2 separate regions of the Homo sapiens genome follow, and region 2 is linked to region 1. Evidence: fine-mapped expression QTL. A gene starts in region 1. The other region holds a variant in brackets. All regions are shown on one strand. Distances are from middle to middle. Region 1 holds the start of AUH (AU RNA binding methylglutaconyl-CoA hydratase). Region 2 overlaps LINC02937 (long intergenic non-protein coding RNA 2937).

The links. PIP is the estimated chance that this variant, and not a neighbour inherited with it, causes the effect.
Region 2: its variant is the best candidate, but not a certain one, in a credible set for the expression of AUH in whole blood (GTEx, PIP 0.54).

What each region holds. Positions count from the first base shown.
Region 1 is chr9:91,359,775-91,364,166 of GRCh38, forward strand. It overlaps AUH (AU RNA binding methylglutaconyl-CoA hydratase), which reads right to left and starts at 2,144. Exons shown (of 10, transcript NM_001698.3): 1 at 1,854-2,144. The coding sequence starts at 2,115. RefSeq lists a silencer at 1,875-2,314.
Region 2 is chr9:91,152,567-91,156,958 of GRCh38, forward strand. All of the region lies in intron 1 of LINC02937 (long intergenic non-protein coding RNA 2937), which reads right to left. All of the region lies in intron 2 of LINC00484 (long intergenic non-protein coding RNA 484), which reads left to right. Among named protein-coding and RNA genes, the nearest start is that of LINC02937, 8.5 kb to the right of the region's middle. The variant G/A (reference allele first, on the strand shown) is at 2,008.

The sequences.
Region 1 (4,392 bases):
AATTTTGGACCCACCTCTAAGAGAAATAAAGGCACCCAGGAAACTCCTTCACCTGTAGTACCCTTGACCTCATGTTTTTCTTTGCACTGCTTATTGCTGGTTCAACAGTAAAGCAAAGCAAAGCCTAGGTAATGTTAGCCAAGCCTGAGTCGTCATTCTTGCCAATTCTCAAAGGAGGCGGGGTCAACTTTAAGAAACCATGATGTATGTCCTATCTCATCAGGAAATCAAGGCTAAAGAAAAAAAAAAAAAGAAACCATGATACCCAAAAAAATTTTCGTTTATTATCTTTTATTATCTGATATTCTCTCTTCTGTCCATTCAGATCCTAACTTAAAGTCTGTCCAGACATTCTGCACAAATATTCCTTTAATTGCATTCAAGTCATAACGACCAAAAAAATAGAATATGGTGCATATTAGTAGCTGTACTTGCAATCCCTTTATATCTAACATATTGTTGGTACACTTAACGGAAGTGAAGTCCCGGCATGACTAAGCTTACCCAAAAGATGATGGCATTCAGGCTCTAATCACTCCAGTGCTAGTCTATGCTTCCAGCTGAATTTCTTACTATTCTGCTTATGCCACACTTGCCTTATGTTACGTCCCAAATACACCACACATGTTCACATCTCCATGCCTTTGACCATGTTCTTGTCTCTGTCTGGAATAATAAGTAAGGAATAAAGTCATTCATCACACTCCTGAAGCACTGCTACGTGCTAGTGGCAATTTACATTAACAATCTCATCTCATCTTCATAACAAACCTATAAAGTTGGTATTGTTTTTCCTGTTTTACACGTGAGATAAGTCTGCCCAAGAACCCTCACAAATGGCAAAATCCACTGCCTATTAAAGAATGCCTTGGAACCCCTTTCAAATGGCGAAACCCTGCAGGTATTACAGCCCTTTCCTCTTACCATGCCTTGAAAGTTCACACAGCCTACTAATAACCAGGATCTGCTTCACTACACTAAAACCAATCACGACTTACACGCTTTTCACTTCTGCTTAACAGATTATAGGTGCTCAACAAATGCATGTCAAAATTAAAACACTGGTCCTCTGGCTTAACCCGGAGGTTAAGGGTGGAAACTGCTATTCCACCCTTCACGACCCTTTTAGCTTTTCCCTGCACTGCCAGTGAAAGGAACTGAGCTGTAACAGTATTCCCTAGGATTGTCAGCCTCCTTCAAAGCCTTCAAAGCTCTGTATTGTATTGCTAATGATGTCTCCTCCCGTAGAAGGTAGCTCAAGGGCAAGATCCATACCATCCACATTCTTATCGCCAGAGCTGAGGAAAATAAAAAGTGCTCAAAATTGTTTAAATGAAGTGGAACAGTCCCTCAAGACTAACTTTCTAAGAGAAAATGAACAAGAGGAAAAATTGTTCCAGCTGAGCAGCTTCAAATTTAAGATTCTCCGTAATAATAAAAGGCAGTTTCACCGCAGCTTTTACAACTCCACCACTAATAGCTGAGTTTACAGAAAGCCATTACACAGCAACAATAAAGCCTGGTAGCAAGGATTAAATCCCCAGGGTATATATTGACCTTGGCTTGTCTGGAGCGGAGGGCGTAAGCTGCACTTCTGTTTGCCGCGCTGAATGCGGTCACTTTACAGGTAAGCTGCTCGGGGGTACACGTTTAGGTTATTAAAAGCAAGAAATAGGTGCACAAGGAAGCGGCCACGCTGGGTGAGTAGGGAGGTGAGAAAGGGGAGGGACCCAGGTTCGGTGCGCCTGCCTGACCTCGACCCCGCGTCCTGCCGGCGGACGCTGCACCTTATGCCCGTCCTGAGAGCGAGCGGCCGCCCGCTGCCCCGCGCCTGCCCAGCGTTCGCACCTCACCTCGGTTCTCCTCCTCCAGGTGCCGCACCCGCAGCTCGTCCTCCGTCTTCATCTCAGAGCTGTAGCCCCTTTTCGGGGCGGGACCCCCGGCCGCAGGTACCCAGCCCTGGGCCCAGATCGCCGGGCCCGCTCGCCGGCCTGCCAACGAGCCGGGCAGCCTCAACCCCGGGCAGAGCCACGCACTGCAAGCGGCCACCAGGCGGGCGCCGCCAGCATGCAGGGATCCCAAGGCCCCAGGTGCCGCCGCCACCGCGGCCGCCATGTTGTCTGTTTACGGCGTGGACCTGCGACGGCCGCTCCGCCCCCGCCCGGCGCCGACCTGCCGCGCGCACGCGCACGGCGTCCGGACCCGCCGCCTCGCTCCGGCTTGGCCCCGCCCTCCGGAGCCGTGTTCCCGCCCCTCACTGCCCCGCCGAAGCCCGGTGACCCGAGGCCTTGCCCCATTCTCCAAGCGAGATTGGATGGTTTGTCCAATACAAAAGGAAAGAAAGTAGTTTTCCAAGGTTATGGAATAATTCAGGGAAGACTTTTCTATAAGAACCACCCGGAGGGAATTATCTCCCCGTACTCCCTGGACCATGCCCTGCGGTCCTGTGTTAAGTAAGCTGCAAAAGTGAACAAAAAAGTTTTGTCTCCTCAAGTTGGCTGAAAGTGTGGCAGCCCATCGTTGGTCACTGCCTTACTTATGGATCTCAGGTTGTTGGTTTAGCGTCCCTGATAAGCATAAATGATGTTTACTACGTGGCGTTCAGGAAAAGGATGAGAACAGCAAACAGGCAAAGGAGTTCTTTCTCCAGCCCACCCACTCGTACCGATGTCCCATGGCCCTTCCTGGACGGAAAGAGTCTTACAGGGGTTCAAACAAGCCATACGCTGAGATGGGATTTAGAGTATGTAGCTCTTCCAGAAACTCGGGATATCAATTTAGTGTGTAGGTACTCATCAAAGCACGTTGCAGTATAATTAATGCTACCTAGCTTTTATCAGATCTCTAATGGGAAAGCTTGCATTTAAGAATACTGGGCAGGGGGCGGTGGCTCACGCCTGTAATCCAAGCACTTTGGGAGGCCGAGGCAGGTGGATCACCTGAGGTCAGGAGTTTGAGACCAGCCGGGCCAACGTGGTGAAACCCTGTCTCTACTAAAAATACAAAATTAGCCAGGTGTGGCGGCACACGCCTGTAATCCCAGCTACTCGGGAGGCTGAGACAGGAGAATTGCTTGAACCCGGGAGGCGGAGGTTGCCCTGAGCTGAGACTGCACCATTGCACTCCAGTCCAGGCAACAAGAGTGAAACTCTGTCTCAAAAAAAAAAAAAAAAAAAAAAAAGAATACTGTTTGAAAAGTGTGCTGCTATGAGCATACGTCTAGTGCCACAGAAATTTCTTGTATTTTTTAGTCCTAAGCAAAACATCCTTCATTATGTCCTCAACTTTTATCCAATGTAGAAACAAAAAGTAGACTGAATTCCATTACTGCATCTGCTGTAAAATGATGTTGAAGGCACTTTTATTTTTATTTTTATTTTTTATTTTTTGACAGGTTCTGGCTCTGTCGGCCAGGCTGGAGTGCAGTGGTGTGATCGCCTCTCGCTGCAACCTCTGCATCTCAGGCTCAAATGATCCTCCCACCTCAGCCTCCTGAGTAGCTGGGATCACAGGCACACACCACCACACCTGGGTAATTTTTGTATTTTTAGTAGAGATGGGTGTTTCTATGTTGGCCAGGCTGGTCTTGAACACCTGACATCAAGTGATCCACCCAACTTGACCTCCCAGAATGCTGGGATTACAGGTGTGAGCCACCATGCACAGCCCACTTTTTATTCTATCTTTTGTAAAGTTCCATGCAGGAAAATTTTCCTGAAGTTTACTACAAGGAAAACTTTGCTTCCTTTGTATCTTTCCTCTTTTCTGATAATGATGTACATGTTGACTGCTGGGTGTTGTGATTTTTATTGTTATGGTTTCTTTCTAATTTGGTCTTGTGGTCACCAGAGGGAGGGTAAATCTGGAGGTGACAGGGAGTTCAGCCAGTGGAAGGGGGTCAAGGAAGGGGCACTTGTGGAGCTAAAGCCTCTGTTGGGGTCCAGCGTGTTACCCAAGCAGTTTCCCATGGAAGTTCTAATTGGTGAGTTTAGAACAAGCAGGCACAAGTTCCATGGAGTCACCCTGTCACTGTGAGGTGGTCACTGGAGCCCATCTACACAGTCCATGTGGGTTATGGAGGTCAACAGGTGAGTCAAGCAGGCTGCATTTACCTGTCCCATAGGGAGATGGTCACCAGGAAGCAGTTGCATTAAGCAGATATCTGGATGGATCACATTGAAGAACTGGGAGGAAGCAGAGAACTGGAAACTGTATCAAAGGTGATTGAGCCCTGCTTCTCATATGAGAAAGTTAAACATATTCAAAATGGATACCAAGGCAAAATAAAATTATGAGAATTACTGTACTAGAGATGGCAGCGGCTGCTCCAGACGGCCTACTGCTGCAGCAGGGAGGCATGGCCAGGGCTGCACGCTCTCTGGCGGGAGCCAG
Region 2 (4,392 bases), 210 kb before region 1:
GAAGGGCATCCGCTTCACTAAGTCTTCTGGTTCAAATGCTAATCCCATCAGAAAACTGTCACAGACACACCCAAATAATGTTTAATCTGAGCACCTACGGTCCACTCAAATTGACTCATAAAATAAGTCATCACATGGGTGAAAGCCTTCCCTGGATGGTGAGTTTTCTGTCTCCCCAACGTGCATGCATGAAGAGCTGTCTGGGTAGATCTGATTCCCATCTTTTACCTACAAACATTTACCCACAACCTTGCCCAAATAACACTGAGCTCCAGGCTGTATGTGTATTATTTCTCATCTTTACAATGGCCCAGAGAGGAGTTCCTGAGTCCTGGAGGGAACTGAGGTAAAAGTGTAACCACTTGATGGGTTCTTCCTGCCCACTGCACGAAATCCATCCACTGAGACCAGGGCATTGCAACAGAGAAAGAGTTTAACTGACGTAAGGCTGGCCCATGCAGGAGAAATGAAGTTATTACTCAAGTATTCGGTGGGCTGGGGGACTAGGGAATGGGTGCTGCTGATTAGCTGGGGAGGAAATCATAAAGGGGTGGAAAACAATCCTTGTGCACTGAGTCCACCTCTGGGTGGAACCACAGGACCAGCTGAGTTATGAGTCAGGGGTCCAGGTGAAGTCAGTCTGAAAAAAATCAGATAAAACCAATCTTAGGTTCTACAATAGTGATGTATCCACAGGAGCAATTGGGGAACGTCACAAATCTTGTGACCTCTGGCCACATGACCCCTGAGCAGTAAGGGATTATAGAAATTATGCCATCATTTAGGCAGAGTTCAGGCCTCTCCCACAATTCTAATCTTGTCATCCTTCATTAGTCTTACAAAGGCGGTTTTTGGTCCCTGAGCAAGGAGGGGGTTAGTTTTATGGAGGGATTTACTTTTACCCTTGCTTTTAAGTTAAACTATAAACTATATTCCTCCTAAAGTTACCTTGGCCCATGCTGCCTTGACCAAGGACAGCTTGGAGGTCAGAAGCAAGATGCAATCAACTAAGTCAGATTTCTCTCACTGTCATAAATTTTGCAAATGCAGTTTCAGAGGGAATGAGTAGGGAAAGGTGGAGGGCCCCTTGTAAGTTATTTGCTGAAGAGCACACAGCTAATGGGTGCAGTTAACACAGGCTTTTGTTGAGACGAAGTCTTGCTCTGTCACCCAGACTGGAGTGCAGTGGTGCGATCTCGGCTCACTGCAACCGCTGCCTCCCGGGTTCAAGCAATTCTCTGCCTCAGCCTCCTGAGTAGTGCCCACCACCACACACAGCTAATTTTTGTATTTTTAGTAAAGATGGGGTTTCATCATCTTGGCAGGCTGGTCTTGAACTCCTGACCTCATGATCCACCCGCCTGGGCCTCCCAAAGTGCTGGGATTACAGGCGTGCGCCAGTGCACCCAGCCTAGGCTTTCCTTTTTTAAAACTCTTTTATTTTATTTACCAATACATATTCATGAAAACAAATCAACCCACACAATAAAGCACCAACAAGAAAGACAAATTAATCACTAAAATTGTAGTACCTCGAAGTACAGTTGACCCTTGAACAATGCAGGGGTTAGGAGCACCAACTCTCATGCAGTCAAAAATCCTCGTATACATTTCGACTCCCCCCAAAACTTTACAGTAATAGCTTGCTGTTGACCAGAGGCCTTACTGATAACATAAATAGCCAATTAACACATATTTCATATGTTATATATGTCATATACTGTATTCTTAAAGTAAAGTAAGCTAGAAAGAAGAAAATATAATTAAGAAAATCATTAAAGAGAAAATATATTTACTATTCACCAAGTGGGGGCGGATCATCATAGAGGTCTTCATCCCTGTCTTCAAGTGGAGTAGGTCGAGGAGGAGGAAGAAGAGGGATTGGTCTCACTGTCCCAGGAATGGCAGAGGTGGAAGAAAATCTGCATATAAGTGGCCCACACAGTTCAAACCTATGTTGTTAAAGGGCCCATTGTGCATCCAGTCCTTGTCTCAAACTGAAGGCTC[G/A]GCCTTGTTCTAATGCTATTGTCTCTAAGATATTCCCTTATATATTTACATCACTGCTCCACTGCAACGCACTGCTAAGATGCTTACACCCTGTCTCCGGGGGCTATGGTTGCCCTAGTTGAGGAGGACTCAGTGGCAGAAGGGACAGGAGTTCACCGACAACTGAAGCCCTGTCCCCGGGGTGCTCTCTTGGGTGCTGGTGACTCCCGGCATCCCCTCTTGGGCATATTTTGAGGTCTAGAGAACCATTTTGCCCAATAGTGGCTGTCAGATAAGGTCTGTTTGGCAGATGCCTGCAGAGCTGTGTGCCTGCCAACAGACATCCCCTGGCTTCCATCCCACCCTTCCCACTATGAGGAGTCAGAGTTGGTGTTTGGCTGACCACAAGGAACCCAGGCAGAAAAGTCCCCTAAGCCTACTGCAGCTCTGTGGTGTGGCTGAGTGGGATGCTCAGCAGGTGTTTGGGGAGAAGGGAAGGTGGACACCCTGAAGGCCTCTGACCCTACCTGAGGCCAAGGATGGGTGAAAAAGTGTAGCATGAATGGCAGCTGGGAGAGCACAGAGCCCAGGGTCTACCCTGACTTCAGGGGGCCTCAGCCAGTCAGACTTTGAATAACACCAGCTACACTGGGGCCCCAATTTCTGTGGCCCCCTCCCATGACAAACAAGGCCCATTGGTCAGGACGAACCAGATCTGATGCAGGAACAAGTGGCCTGCCAATCTCAGGGGCTCTGCCCATCACAGTCACTTAGCACCTCAGTACCTCAGCACTTCTCCACTTGTGGGCTGGTTGGGCTTCCTTGCAGCATGGTGGCCATGCTCGATCAGGGCAGTCAGACTGCTTCCACGGTGGCCCAGGAGTATTCCAGAGAGCCAGCAGGAAGCTGTCACCTCTTCATGACCTGGCCTTGAAAGTTACGTAGCATCACTCCACCGTAACTTTGGTGGACAGGCCACTAAGTCAGGCCCAGAATCAAGGGGACCAACACTGACTCCACTTCTCGGTGGGTGGAGCTGTAAAGCCACCTCACAGGACTGTCATGTTATTTATGAGCTAATATCTGTAAAGTGCTGAGAACCATTCCTCACAGTAATGCAATTTATACAAGTGTTTCTTAAAGAAAGCATACTGCTCATGGATTTGAAAATCATGTCTCAGTAAGCTAACTCCCTGTTTGATATCCAGAACATTCCTGCATCACCCAGTGGGGGAAGCACCAAATCCTGTTGCTCTTTCACTGCCATGCAAGTGCCTGGCCATGGAAGTTGGAGTCAGAATCCTTGTCACACCTTCCAAAAGTTTCACCAGAGGTTCAGAGAATCCAGAGAGGGCTGGATCTCCACCCTTCCAGGGAGAGGGAACAAACAGTGGGCTTCAGCAGCCTGACTCAGGAGCAAATTCCTAGATGACTCTACCTGGAACATGGCACACTGGGGCTCAGGGCTGTGAAACTCAGAGCAAAAACAAGGCCAGTGTTGACTGAGGCTCTCACCCTCCACTGCACGTTCAAACCATCTGGAGACCCTCAGATGGCTCCACACCTGGCCTCTCCCCAGGCAGAGCTCTGAAGTGGGACCTGGGCTTCAGAATTCTGAAACCTCCCAAGCGATTTCAAGACACACCAAAGCCTAAAAGTAACTGAAATGATGGGTTTCCGACGCTCCTGTGCTTGCGAGTCACTTGGGGACCTTGTTAAGATACAGACTCTCACTCAGTGGGGCCGGCTGAAATTCTGCATTGCTAGCAATCTCCTGGCAATGTTCATGCCTCTGGTCTGTGGACCACGCTTTGAGTAGCAGAAAAATAGAGCAGCATTTCTTAGTCTTGTCTTGTCTTTTTAACTCTATGCTTCCCACTGATTAATGTACAAATCCCATGCCTTCTTTTAATATTATTTGAAAACTGCACAGTAAATTAAATATTGCAACTAAAACCAAGTGTTAATTTGAGGGGACAAAATTCTGCATTGTTTGCACAACTCACTTCTGGGCCTTCCCATCCCACCAACACCTACAATCTGGGAAAACACCCTGTTGCAAAAACAACTGGAGGTGGCACCCATCCGGCTTCACCCAGGTTTCCACCGGCTCCTTCACCCGGCACCTAAAGGACTCACCACCCACCCCCTATTGGGGTCTTGCTTCACCCATCAACAAGCAAGATAATGTCAGGTGGCCTCGAAGGGCCTTTCCAATATCACTAGGGACTTTTGATCTTAAATCATCTTTTAATCTTTTCCATCCCATGGATCCTCGGCCTCCTCTGTGACTTCCAGGAAAGAAGCAGGCCTCCAAAAGCATTTTCTACCACAGGCACTTGTGCCTAGGGACTTTCCTGACAAGGACATGAACAGGCACATCAGGGTTGGTGACCACACCATAAG